Homo sapiens: one gene and its partner. The protein of the gene in region 1 interacts with the protein of each later gene in a biochemical or structural test. Each region holds a gene or a part of one and is shown on either strand. Other genes may lie near its edges.

Region 1 (7,115 bases):
CCTTTAACCACCTCTCTGCCCGGAACTAACTCTCTGCCTGGAACTAACACTTCAAATTAAACCGACTACCCATGAGCGTACAGACCATAGCCAGAAAAAATCCAAGTTATCTCAGTGCAGGCTACAGATGTCTTTGGAGCAGCAGCCAGAAGACCCTGGTATGTAAGAGCTATCTTATAAAGCTACTAAAACTTTAATGGGAGAGTTGCTAAGAAACTGATACAGAGGATATCTTTAAATTACTGTAATTTTGCTGTCTTGTAATAAGTTGTTTTACCTGTTTTTTTTTTGGTAAAGCTTTTTCTGATACAATGTTGTTAGTACGATTGCAGCTGTTGGCATCATTGCCCATCTGTGGTTTTGTAAAAAAATATTCACCTGGGTTTCTGGATGGAACTTCAACTAAGAGAACGCAACACTTTTATAGAGAAATCTGGGCCCTTGGCACCATAGACATTTCTGACATAAAAATAACTTATTATGTTTCGGTAAGACCAAAAATGAGGAAATGACATGCCTCAGCCAAACCACAGCTCTGGCTTGTGCTCGTGGATTTGCGGAGGAGGCATTGCAGAGGGGATCGAAGAATAACTAGACTTAGTAGAAATACTACCAGAATACCAAATACGGTGGGAGATCAATGGGAAGTATATGGATGGAATGACACACCAATTCCAGTTGAAATATGGAACTTGTGCAAGTTCATGATTGTGTAATTTTCAGAGTGTCCATGCGAACCCCATAGGGTAAGAAAGCAAACATCAGAACACAGCCCAAAAGATCGGTGTCCTTTGAGTTGGTGGCTTTTCTTTTGTGTCAACAGTATAGCCTAAGAGAGTGCTATGTGCTCCCATTTTTGTAGTACTTGGGTATACTTTGTGTGTGTGTGTGTGTGTGTGTGTGTGTGTAGACAGGGTCTCACTTTGTTGCCCAGGCTGATCTTTGATCTTGATTTTTTGGGATCAAGCATTCTCCTGCCTCAGCTTCCCAAAATGCTGGGATTATAAGTGTGAGCCACTGTACTCGGCCAGGATATTGTTTTTGTGAAAACGCTTATGAAAATAAGATACTACACACCTGTGATCAACAATAGTTTAGAGACAGAGTTTATAAAGAATCCTGAATTATCAGATAAGGAAAGAATTAAACCTAATGTTTCTTTGCTTTAGATTCCCATTCTGTGTAAAACGATGGATATTTATTCCCAGCCCCTATCTTTGTCACAAAGGAAGTTGCGAGGGGAAAGCTATCAATAGTGGCTGTGAGTTCATGTTAACACTTTATGCATGCCATGTAAGAGAACGGATCTAACATTCAAAGAGTGCTTAAAAAACACCTAGGCTTTTAATCCTCATGACAGTGCTAAACTAAGGTCAACATTTTAGGCTGAGAGAGCTGAAGCATACCTATCAAGATTAGCCAACTAGTAATCATCAGAGATGTGACTTTCAAGCCCAGGTTTGTTTGACCCCAAGCTTTGCTCTTTCCACTATGATATAGTGCATTCCTCCTGGAATTGTGTTTAGCCACAGAAGATTAGGTAATAGCATGTGTCCTTTCATGTTTGGAGCTCAACATTAGTCGGTATAAACCCAAACTTCATAAATACTTAATGTTAAGTACTTTTCCTACTTTCTGCTCGAGGGGAAGAAAGCAATTTCCAGTTGATTGAATGCATTTCCAGACATGGTTTTCCAGTCCAGTTTCAGGCAATTTAGTTTTTTGTTTTTTGTTTGTTTGTTTGTTTTGCTGAGACAATGTTGCTCTGCCACCCAGGCTGGAGTGCAGTGGCACGATTTCGGCTCACTGCAACCTCTGCCTCCTGGGTTCAAGCCATCCTCCTGCCTCAGCCTCCGCAGTAGCTGGGATTACAGGCGCGCACCACCACGCCCAACTAATTTTTGTATTTTTAGTAGAGATGGGGTTTCCTCATGTTGGCCAGGCTGGTCTGGAACTCCTGACCTCGTGATCTGCCCACCTTGGCCTCCCAAAGTGCTGGGATTACAGGTGTGAGCTACTGGGCCTGGCCGGCAATTTAGTTTTTAAAAATCTCTGTCCAGCAGAGACTTCCTTATTTTATTGTTATTATTATTTTTTGTACTGATAGACACAACAGATGCATTTTGAATAAGTCTGAACATCACTACTTTCTATGAGTAACTGACCACTGGGAGACCAGATGAGATATTTCTTATGCCTCCCATTCCAGGAGGCCATTATTTAGGGGACACATGGTGTGTTATGGATATCTAACATATCATGTTGGATCACTCCCACTTCTCAATGGTTCTCTGCTGTACATCAAGAAGTTAAGATTAAAAAACAGAAGCATGAAGAAGAATGTTGTGGACTGATTTTAGTTGCACTGATGTGAGTTTTCCTATCCAGCTACACTTTTTGTCCGGTGTCTACTGCGAACAATGGCACATTTCATCACACAGCTGGATAATGTTAAGAATTATAATCTGTAACCCCAGATTAGATGAAAATAAATGCCACTCGTAATACTAATTATGTTCCTGACCTTATTGTATTTACTTACTAACCCCAAATAAACTCATCTATTTACTTAAATGGGAATATTAACATCACATAAATCATATTTAACAATGAACACATGAAACAATTTATCACCTAGTTTAATATTCTGCTTGACTCATCTAAATCTTGTTTCTCTTACAGAATTTCCATCTGTGTCCACTCTATTGGAATAATGCTGTTTCTGTATACTTCTACAATGCCTGCTTTACTATTGAACAGTAGGTATGAAATGGAGTCCTCAATGGGATTATCTCATTCATGGATACATCTTTTGATAGTAGAAAAACAAAAGTATACATAGGTTGGGGGAAAGACAGAAAAAGCAGTTGCTGAAAAATAGCACCTGATGGTGAGTAATGGACAGCAATCAGGTTTTTGTTATGTTTTCTTGTTGTTTTTGTGACAGGGTCTCCGCCCTCTGTCACCCAGGCTGGAGTGCAGTGGTGTGACCTCGGCTCACAGCAACCTCTGCCTCCCGGGCTCAAGTGATCCTCCCAACAGACTCCTGAGTAGCTGGGACTACACGCATGTGCCACTTTGCCCAGCTAATCTGTGTATTTTTTGTAGAGATGGAGCTTCGCCGTGATGGCCAGGCTGATCTTGAACTCCCGGGCTCAAGTGGCCCGCCGGCCTCGGCCTCCCAAAGTGCTAGGATTACAGGCATGAGCCACCGTGACCAGCCTAGCAATCAGGTTTTTATCTGTTTCGGGTGTGGGAGAGGCTAAGCTAAGCCAGAATTCAAAAGAAAGGAATATATTCATAATTAGTTACACTTAGGGTGAAAAATAAAATTTCAGAGAGAGCAGAATAGGAAAAAAAAATCATAATTTTAATAATTCACACTTATTGCACTATTGTTATTTCAATTTTACAGAGAAAAACAGGCATAGAGTGATGAAATAGCAAGTACATATATAAACAACAAATGGCAGAGCTGGAACGCCAATCCTAGCAATCTGAACCAGCATTTAAAAACGAGGAATTAAAGCACATAGGGTGAGAAAAATTATAGGGAAGGGACAAGAGCTCAAGGGGACACCTGGAAAAGAAATACTATAATTTAAAAAATTACCAACGGGCTAATTATACTTGTGTTTTACTGGCAGAGCGCTTTGTCTGTTAGCTCTTTTAATCCCGCTAATAATTCTGTGAGGTTGGTACTATAAGTTCCATTTTTCAGACAAGGACGCTTAATAGATGATAACGGACACATTCCCTGCTTGCTCTGATCTGCATCTCAACAGCTGGCTCTGGAGCAAGCAAAGGGAGACTAAGGGAAACAGAGCGGAGCAGGGCAAAGAAAGCCGACTGAAAGTGAGAAATGCAGGAAATGTTTCCCATCTAGGCAGAAGCTGGTTCCAGCATTCAAATCTCTCCAGCCGGCCCGCCACCACGTCACAAAGCCCGCCTCTCAGTGACAAAGCCCCGCCCCGTTCCCTTGGCTGTTCTCTGAGCTCCCAATACTTCCCTCCTTCTCTTTGGCCCCTGCTACCCCGCCTAGCATCATTTCCTGTGCGCTGGATGCTGATTGGTCCGACAGTCGGAAGTGAGGGCGGGCGGTGGGGGCCGTTGCCGCAGTGACAGTGCTAGGGGAGTCCGAAGATGGCGGCGTCGCGTCGCTCTCAGCATCATCACCACCATCATCAACAACAGCTCCAGCCCGCCCCAGGGGCTTCAGCGCCGCCGCCGCCACCTCCTCCCCCACTCAGCCCTGGCCTGGCCCCGGGGACCACCCCAGCCTCTCCCACGGCCAGCGGCCTGGCCCCCTTCGCCTCCCCGCGGCACGGCCTAGCGCTGCCGGAGGGGGATGGCAGTCGGGATCCGCCCGACAGGCCCCGATCCCCGGACCCGGTTGACGGTACCAGCTGTTGCAGTACCACCAGCACAATCTGTACCGTCGCCGCCGCTCCCGTGGTCCCAGCGGTTTCTACTTCATCTGCCGCTGGGGTCGCTCCCAACCCAGCCGGCAGTGGCAGTAACAATTCACCGTCGTCCTCTTCTTCCCCGACTTCTTCCTCATCTTCCTCTCCATCCTCCCCTGGATCGAGCTTGGCGGAGAGCCCCGAGGCGGCCGGAGTTAGCAGCACAGCACCACTGGGGCCTGGGGCAGCAGGACCTGGGACAGGGGTCCCAGCAGTGAGCGGGGCCCTACGGGAACTGCTGGAGGCCTGTCGCAATGGGGACGTGTCCCGGGTAAAGAGGCTGGTGGACGCGGCAAACGTAAATGCAAAGGACATGGCCGGCCGGAAGTCTTCTCCCCTGCACTTCGCTGCAGGTCAGAGACTTTTGAATTGTTTATTAAGGGTTATGGGTTTGGGTGCAGGGTCCGGTTAGGACAAGAAAACAGGTTATTGTGATGGGACAAAGTGGGGGCGTGGTTATGGTTCTTCATCACCTCACCAGAAGACTGGAGGTTCCTTTCTTTTGGTGGTGCCTGGGTGATGGGGGCGTGGTTGGGGGGGATAAGTGAATCCAAGGAATTCTTCAGTGGTTGCACAGTACTCATTACAAAACTCACTGTAGTTGGTAGTCTCTGCATATGGATATATTTACACTTTAGTTTTTGGTGTGCAGGAATACAGTTAGATTTGGACAGCTTTAGAGTAGTTTTGTCGTTTGTGTGCTAGTTTATTTTGTTTTTACAAGGGTATGTCCTTTGAGGACAGTCCAGACCAAAAGAGGTTTAATACAACCCAACACATGTTTGAGGATCTATTGTAGCCTTAATAACCCAATGAAAGACATAAATGAAGTGTTTGAAAGTTTCCCTTCTTCTAAAGAAGTTTGCAGTCTAGACGGGGAGACCAAAATATGCCAATGTGAAACAACTGGAGAAGAATATTTGGATGCATTATATGATGATGGAAGAAATATAGGCTTTGATGTTGTGGCCACTATTATTTGTTGTCTAGCAGACCATTTACCTCGTGTCAGTTGCCTCAGTTTTCTCATGGGCAAAAATCATAAAATGATGTTGTGCGAGCATTTGGTGAGAAGTATCTGGCACAAAGTTCTCCCTCAAAAAGTGTGAATTTCTTAAGCTCTGGACCCCACACTTGTCTTTTTTTTTTTTTTTGCAAGTAGTTGATGATTTTCTCTCAAAGACACCTAATAATATGTTTATAAAATAAAGAGAACTGTAAAATAAAAACAAAGGACCATAATCTCACTGCCTGGATACCTATTGTTGATATTTTAAAAATGTAGGTAATAATGTTTTATACATTAGAAACATTATATTGGAAATACATATATTGTACGTTATACAATTCAAATAGGACAGAAAAATACAAAATGAAAGGCATCACACAGAAACATCAGAGATAACACACCAGAGATAACTTCTGTTAAGTTTCTCCTATATTTCTAATATATATATATATCACTTCTTCAGTTTGTTCTGTTAACAGTAAAACATGTGTTGACCCACTGTAGTATTTATTTTTACCACACTTGGGAGATATGATTAACCATTTTACAGATGACAAAAGTGAAGCATATATCGATCGCTTAAATAAGTCCAAATTCAGTCAGGAAATAGTGGAAATTGAGTTTGAATTCAGGCAGTTTGATTTTAGAGCTTGTGAAATCAAACTTAAACTGTCAGAACCCTGGATTAAGGTCACTTTTCATTTTTGTGAGTAATTGAAGTGTAGAGTTCCCAATTTTTGGGAGAAGTAGTAATGCGGAGGGGCTTATATGCAAGAGAGTAGCTTTCACATGTTTTTTATTGTAGCCCATACTTAGAAATACATTTTACATTGTCACATACGCAACTGAATCAAAAGTTTCTGGAAACAATACTTTCCCTTAATACATGTGTTGTCCTCTGATATTTTATATTTTATTCTGTTTCATTTTTAGCAAATGCTGCTTGTGATCCATTAATGGGTCGTGACCAGTGGTATGAGAAACACTTAAAGGAAATCATTGTTAGGTCACTGGATTCATTATTGATATACAGACACTACTTATTAGGAATGCAGTGAATTGAATCAGAAACAGACTTTTGCCTATTTGTTTGCTCAAGGGTCTTGCTTGTTTTAGATGAAATAGCATTTCTTTTTCCTTAGGCTAAATGAAAGGCCTAAGTCTGATTTTATTAATCAACAGAGGTGTCTACTTTTGCATACTTTATTCCAAGTTTGCCTATTTTAACAAATTGCGTCACAAATCATGTCATTTCTCACCATCCCACTTTATGCGTAATCACCAATAAATGATAGTTATATTTATGTGTATTAATGTATTTAGGATAAGTCACACAAAATAGTGCTTGTTTCTCAAATCACGTGTCTTCTATTTGCCACAATAGTTACTTGTTATTCTGTTTCAGAGTTTTATGTATATCCAGATAAGCTAGAAGATAAACAATCAAACAGTACCGTAATTATGTTGTAGTTATGACAAGCTAACCTTGAATTGGCTTTTTAAGAAAGTTTTTAGCTCAGTTGTGGAAAACACAGTAATAAAATTCTCGATATGAAAACATAATGTCCTGTAGTCAGTTTGCCACGCTTCCGTGATTGAATTCGTAACATTAAAGTTTTATTAAACTTTAGTCTTCTTTATCA
Region 2 (7,046 bases), on another chromosome or scaffold:
ACAGTGGAACCCACGGGTTCTCAAAGAGGTTAGGTACTTGGTGCTTCTTGCCTGTCCTGTCTTGAAGCCTGGAATAGCAAGTTCAAGAACCTGAAGGGTATGGGGACCTGGCCCCATGACCTTGGCCTCTGTGCAAATTTGCTGAAAGAACTTTCCAAAGGCTTTGCAAGGCAAGCACAGTCTGTTTCATGGATGTTTTAAAACCAGCTGAGATGGTTTTGCAGCTGAGAAACGTGCTAAAAAGGCATTGCATCCGTTTTGTTAACATTTCCATCCATTGAGATTCGCTTTTATTCCCTTTAGTGAGCAGAAAATGTTACCTTTTCCAGCCCCACAGTGGGAGCTTCTCACTGGGTATGTGGGGAAGGCAAGGGAAGTGTGGGGCAGGGGCTTTTATAAGTGGAAGGGGTTGGTGGTGGGAGGAGAGGAGCAGGAAGGGGCTAGAGCATATCATGGTGGTCTTGGGGACTCTGGAGAGGCATTTGGGATGGAGGAGGAGAAGGGAGAGAGGAAGATGGGCCCAGTGAGATGCCCAGGGGGATTTGAGGAAGTGGAGCTTCCTGACGACTCAGGCTGTTGACGGGGTGGTGACGGAGCACAGGGAACCACTGAGGCTGCATTGAGGACTGCAGGGACGAGGGGAGGGCGCAGGACTAGGAGTTGGGAGGCCCTTGTGGTCCTGGGCAGGTTGCTGGGCTCTGAGCCTCAGTTTCTCAGGGTTTGACTCAGGAAGTGCAGAGTTCCAGCTTTAATGTTCTTGGTGCAGGGGAGAGTCCAGGCTTGGCGTGGTTGTTCCTGATTTCTCTTCCTGGGACTCATAGAACTTTGCACACCCCATGCTTAACCACACGTCTTACCTCATTGATCTTCACAGCTGCTCTGTGAAGCAGGAAAGTGATTTTTATCCTCTCCGCTGGAGGGTCGAAAGGTGGTGTGACCCCTTAAGGGCAAAGAGTCAGGAGTACCTCTTTCTCACTTGTATATGTTAACTGCTTTCAGGTGTGGCCACTGTGGGACCACTGCCCCCCTCCCACCCAACCCCCCCCCCCACCACCACAGCTCTCTGCCTTTCCGTTCTGTGTGGGGTGGCTCTTAAGAAGTGGAAAGTGATCATCTTGTTCCCTTAGTTTAGGATGGAGGGAGGTGGGGCGGGGATTGTGATGGGACTAGGTTAGGGGAAGAGGAGGATAGTGTCATCATTGTGTCTTTAAAACACCCAGGCTTTTGTGGTTGTGTTACCGTAATCTGGCCAGTGTTGACTTTAACCCGAGTTCAGGGGTTAGCCGTGATGCCATACAGGTGAGCCTCATTGTATGCAACAGAAAGCGTGGCTCCTAACAGAAAGCACGGCTCCTCAAAAAGCCGAACGAAAACAGTTGCTTTAGAGAGGAGTTCGAGGGGCTTGTTTGAATTTTATGCTTTCGGGCAGCCTTTTCTAAAATGTGTCCTAAAGAATACCAGTCTGTGAATATGTTTGGAAAATGCTGGGTACTCTGTGGCCGTACAGAAGACTTAGTCTGTATATTAGCATATATTAGTACCTTAAAGACAAGTAATGCAGTATTTTCCAAGCTAATTTGGCTAATGTCCAAGAACCTAGTGTTCTGAGCAGGGAAATTCTGATGTAGGGAAATTCTACACTATGGGCACTTTCTCTTTTTTTTTTTGAAACGGAGTCTTGGTCTATCGCCCAGGCTCCCAGCCTGAAGTGCAGTGGTGCGATCTTGGCTCACTGCAACCTCTGCCTTCTGGGTTCAAGCGATTCTCCTGCCTCAGCCTCCTGAGTAGCTGGGAATACAGGCGCACATCACCACGCCCGGCTAATTTTTGTATTTTTAGCAGAGATGGGGTTTCACCATGTTGGCCAGGCTGGTCTTGAACTCCAGACAGACCTCAGGTGATCCACCCACCTCGGCCTCCCAAAGTGCTGGGATTACAGGCATGAGCCACCATGCCTGGCCCACTATGGGCACTTTCTCTTTAAAGAAAATTTTGGAGGTTCCCTTTGTAACGAGAAGTCCTTGAGAATAGCTCAGAGGGGTCTGGCTCTGGGTCCATCTGCCAGGCTTGCGTTCTGATTCTGTCACCACCTCTGTGACCTTGGGCAAGTTTGTTCTCTTCTGCGGGCCTCCGATTCCTCGTCTGTAAGTTGGGAGTAACTTACTCCCAGTACTCATGGGGTTTTGTTAATTGTTCCTCACAAAAACTAGGGAAACTGAGACCCAGAGAGGCAGTGTGACTTGCACCGGTTCCCACGGCTGGTGGCTGTGGGTTCTTCTTGTCTCCCTGGGCCCAAGCCGTGCAGTCTTCTCTGGGCACCCTCCCTGTCTCTCTGGGGTCAAGGTCAGCTGCTATTTCTCTAGACACATCTTTCCAGCTTCACCCCTCCCTCATTTCAGGTCTCAGAACACTGGGATATTCACGTTTTGTAGTTCCAGCGCCATGTTTGCCTCTGGAGCAGTGGTGGAGGGTGGGGTGGGATACCGTCTTGGTCCTCAGGGTACTCTAAAGTTTAGACCAGGTGAAGGGTGTAGATGCGACAAGATGAGGCACATCCTCTCTGGCCAGGGACCCGTGTTGAGGATGATAATGACTATCCTAATAATTTGTTGTATTTGTCAAGTGCTAACTATGTGTTAGGCACATATTTCTGCCAACAAACTAGAACAGTTTATGTACTTTTATTATCCCCATTTTACAGATAAACTGAGGTTCAGAGTGGGACAAATAACTTGTGGTCAAAGCCACAGGCATAGGAGGAGACAGAGCCTAGCTGTGTCCTGGAGTGGCAGGACTCAGTCCCTGTGTTCCTAACTACCCCTCTTTCCTGCTCCCATGCCGGGAGGGGCTCAGCTTATACATGATCTGGGTGCTTAGGGGTAGGAAAGCTGCTTCTAAGATGGGGTGAAGGGCGAGTGGGGTTTAGTCCGGCGGGGTGGACGTAGCTGCACTTTCTTGGGTTTTCCCCACTCGCCACTCTCTGCTCCTCAAGGCCACCTCCAGAGCTCACTGACCTCTGCCTGAGTGGCTTGGGCCACCTCTCGCTTTAGGAGTGGATTTTTTTTTTTTTTTTTTTTTTTGAGACGGAGTTTTGCTCTTGTTGCCTGGGCTGGAGTGCAGTGGCGCGGTCTTGGCTCACTGCAACCTCCACCACCCGGGTTCAAGCGATTCTCCTGCCTCAGTCTCCCCCAAGAAGCTGGGATTACAGGTGCCTGCCACCATGCCTGGCTAATTTTTGTATTTTTAGTAGAAACAGAGTTTCACCATGTTGTCCAGGCTGGTCTGGAACTCCTGACCTCAGGTGATCCGCCTGTTTTGGCCTCCCAAAGTGCTGGGATTACAGGCGTGAGCCAGGGCATTTCACATCTCTTTAGCTCATGGGGCCTGCCCTTAGCCTTCTTTTGCCCCACCCCAGGGAGAGGCTTTGGGCCTGGCCTCTGTAGTCTGGGTGGGGTGCTGTTGCCACCCCCTCCCTCCAAATTCTCCCTGATTTTAAGCTGGCTGTCAGGGTGAGCTGGCTTTGGCCCCCAGCCAGGGCTGCTCCCAATTCTGCTGCCTTGCTGTACTTCTGCTGCCGCCACTGCCTCCTCCCCCAATGTCTCTCCCCAGACCACTTTAATTTCCATCTGTCAGCAGCTTGTGGAAGGACAGACTACCACTCATGCTCTCTCTCCCTGCCCCCTCTTCCTGCTTGGTATTGACTCACCTGCCCCACTCTCCTCCTGCTTTAATCCCAGTGGGAACCTGGGGCCTGGCTTCCAGGCACTGCCGTGCCAGGCTTTCCCACACCTCTGTGCGTAGTATGAGTGTGTGTGTGTGGGGTGGGGGTGTGGGGATGCGGGGATGCGTGTGTTTGTGTCAGGTGTGGCTCTGTGCCGTGCCTGTAGATGTGGTGGGTGCGAGGTCCATCTGGGGGAGTGACAAACAGCGCACAAGCTCTCTGCCTGAGTGTGTGTGATGGTGATGAATGTGAATGTGTCATTTTGGGGAGTGGCCGCTGGACAGGGCGGGCAGTATGAGTTAGTGAGAGAGTGTGTGGTGTGCTTGTGCCGTGTTTGTATTTTGTTTTTAGATGGGGTCTTGCTATGTTGCCCAGGCTGGTCTTGAACTCCTGGGCTCACGTGATCCCCCTGCCCTGGCCTCCCAAGTAGCTGGAATTACAGGCGTGAGCCCTGCACCCCATGTCCAGCTGTATTGTGTTTTGAGGAAGCAGCAGACAGAAGATGCATATGCTGCATGGAGGTCCAAGGTGACCCAGCCCCTCATTTGCTTGGCAAACATTTGCTTAGTCCGGCGCGTAGCCAGGCTCTGGGTCAGGTGCTGGGGGCATAAAGGCAGAAAGGGCCCCGTTTTTGCCCTTGAGGAGCTCACCGACAGGCTATGGGGACAAAGAACCACAGGAAAGAAGCAGGAACTGGCATGGATTGGAGCCCAGGGCTGGTAGGGCTGAGGCGGCCATGGTGGCTGGGAGGGGGCAGGGCAGCTTCGGAAGCAGAATTGAACCAAGGGGACAGTACCACCAGGGACGGTGTGGTGCGGGGAGCTTTCCAGAAGAGGGAGCAGCTCGTTCAAAGCCAGCAGCATGTGAGGGCCGGGTGTCTTCTGATGGTCCCTGGTTGCTCTGTGAGCCTGGGGAATGAAGAGGCATAACGTGGGGGCTGAAGACAACATGAGTCCGGAGAGGCAGGTGGGCCAGTACCTGGCTCACCCCAAGGAGTGTGACTGCCCGAGCACGTGGCCCTGGGAGGGAACACATTGCTAGCATGCAACAGCAGCAGGAATAATGGCTGCTGCTTCTGCGGTGCGTGCTGACCAGGACTGTGCTAAGTGCTTTAGATTTTTCTTTCATCCTTGCAGCGACTCCGTGCAGTTAGAGGAGCCTGAGCTGTTTCCAGGGGAGGGGGCTCACCCGAGGTCTCAGGGATTTGAACCTGCCAGACTGGCTCAGCTCTTCACCTGTGTGCTGTGTTGCTCAAGGCCCTGACCGTGTCCTTGGAGTCTGGAAAAAGCATGGGAAGGAGGGCAAGGGAGAGTTTGGGGGCTGGGGGAAGGAGCTTGTGAAGTAGGCTTCAGGGCAGGGAGATGGGGCCTTACGATGATCTCGTTCTCTCTCTGTCCCCTTTACAGCCCTGGCAGGTGCCCGGCCCGCCCCCCACCCTCCGGCTCCCAGGGCCTGCTGGAGGAGATGCTGGCAGCCAGCAGCTCCAAGGCGGTGGCTCGGAGGGAGTCAGCGGCCTCGGGCCTTGGGGGCCTGTTGGAGGAGGAAGGAGCCGGGGCAGGTGCTGCCCAAGAGGAGGTGCTGGAGCCTGGCAGGGACTCTCCACCCTCCTGGAGGCCGCAGCCTGATGGTGAGGCCAGCCAGACAGAAGACGTGGATGGCACCTGGGGCTCTTCAGCAGCCAGGTGGAGCGATCAGGGGCCAGCACAGACTTCTCGGCGACCCTCCCAAGGCCCTCCTGCCAGATCCCCCAGTCAGGACTTCTCCTTCATTGAGGTCAGTGGAGGGTGAGCCCATGACAGTGGGTGGGTGAGGGCGATGCAGCGAGAGCCCCATTCCTGGAGCTTCCCTGAGCAGTCCCAGTCCAGGAGGCAGAAAGCGGGTTGTAGGTGCGTCACGTGAACGTGAAGCTCCGGCTGCAGGAGGGGTCCAGCTCCTGGTCAGCTACTGTTGAGGGGCTCCCGTGGGATGAGGCAGCAATGGCAGTGGTGTCACCATTGCCCCAAGCAGGACACCGAGATCCTCGACAGTGCCATGTATCGGAGCCGTGCCAACTTGGGGCGCAAGCGTGGGCACCGGGCCCCGGTCATTCGGCCTGGGGGTACCTTGGGCCTGTCGGAGGCAGCAGACTCGGATGCACACCTGTTCCAGGACTCTACAGGTAGGGCTGATGTATTATTTGGTGATGTCTCTTGATCTCTAGGGCATTAGGCCAAGCTTTTGCAGGGGTTATGGGTTCGGGGAGTCTGGGTGTGCTGCCTTTTCTGAGCCCCTTTCCCGGGCCTTTGCAGAGCCACGGGCATCTCGGGTGCCATCTTCAGATGAAGAGGTAGTGGAGGAACCTCAGAGCCGCCGGACACGGATGTCGTTGGGCACCAAGGGGCTGAAAGTCAACCTCTTTCCTGGCCTGAGCCCCTCAGCCCTGAAGGTACCATCTGATCATTAAGCAAACATGTCCAGCCATCTGGCCAGGTGGCCACCTTGCATGCTGTCTTTCTTCTCTTCATCCATCAATTCATTCCCCTGTCCCCCTCTCCCATTCCTCCTCTCACTCTCCTCTCCATCGAGGGCTCCAGAAGATCCCTTTGTGCCCCGCCGGGCCCTATGCTGTGTGCCAAATGGGATGGAAAGAAGAACAAGATGTGTTCTTATTCTGGAACCTCAGGGGCAGTGGGAGACATGATGCCCATAATTAGCCTGGATGAGAGAAGAAGTTTAGGTGTCCCTGAGGAGAGGCACAGATAAGGGCTGGGCCTGTTCAGAGAGAGAGGAGTTATTTCCTAACAGCAGAGTGGAGGGGGATGGGAAGGGAGGGTGGATTGGAGAAGGCCTCTTGTATGTATTTGATCTTAGCCGGCGGCAGGCACAGGAGTTGGCTCCTGGAGCTGGGATGGTGGGGTGGCATTGCAGGCAGAGGGAACAGGGGTGGGAAGTCACCACTGGCTTTGTCCCACCCAGTTTGTCTGAATTCAATCCTGCCATATGTTTTTGAGGACAGAAAGGTGTGCAAGGCATAGCTCAGTTCTGCGGGAAGTGCATCTCTAAGTGACTTCCCATCCTTTGGGGTGAAAGGACTGCAGAGGGGTCTCTGCTTGATTCTGGGGACTGCACACTCTTGAGATAAGGTCTTACCCCCTGAGAGTCCTACTGCCTGTCCCTCTACTATCTATCTGCTTCTGGACTTGCTTCTCAGGCCAAGCTGCGCCCCCGGAATCGCTCAGCTGAGGAGGGAGAGCTGGCTGAGAGCAAGTCGAGCCAGAAGGAGTCCGCGGTCCAGCGTTCGAAATCCTGCAAGGTCCCAGGACTGGGAAAGCCCCTCACGTTACCT

The links. Proteins that work in one complex are often made in the same cells at the same time.
Region 2: the proteins of TNKS (region 1) and TNKS1BP1 form a complex in vitro, tested with the Homo sapiens proteins (2 studies listed by BioGRID).

The regions. Positions count from the first base shown.
Region 1 is NC_000008.11:9,551,797-9,558,911, forward strand, and holds the start of TNKS (poly [ADP-ribose] polymerase tankyrase-1), read left to right. Parts: upstream 1-4,115; 5' UTR 4,116-4,143; coding exon 4,144-4,816; intron 4,817-7,115.
Region 2 is NC_000011.10:57,300,907-57,307,952, reverse strand, and holds part of TNKS1BP1 (182 kDa tankyrase-1-binding protein), read left to right. Parts: intron 1-4,857; coding exon of another isoform or gene 4,858-4,984; exon of another isoform or gene 4,985-5,088; intron 5,089-5,127; coding exon 5,128-5,494; intron 5,495-5,728; coding exon 5,729-5,879; intron 5,880-6,009; coding exon 6,010-6,146; intron 6,147-6,911; coding exon 6,912-7,046.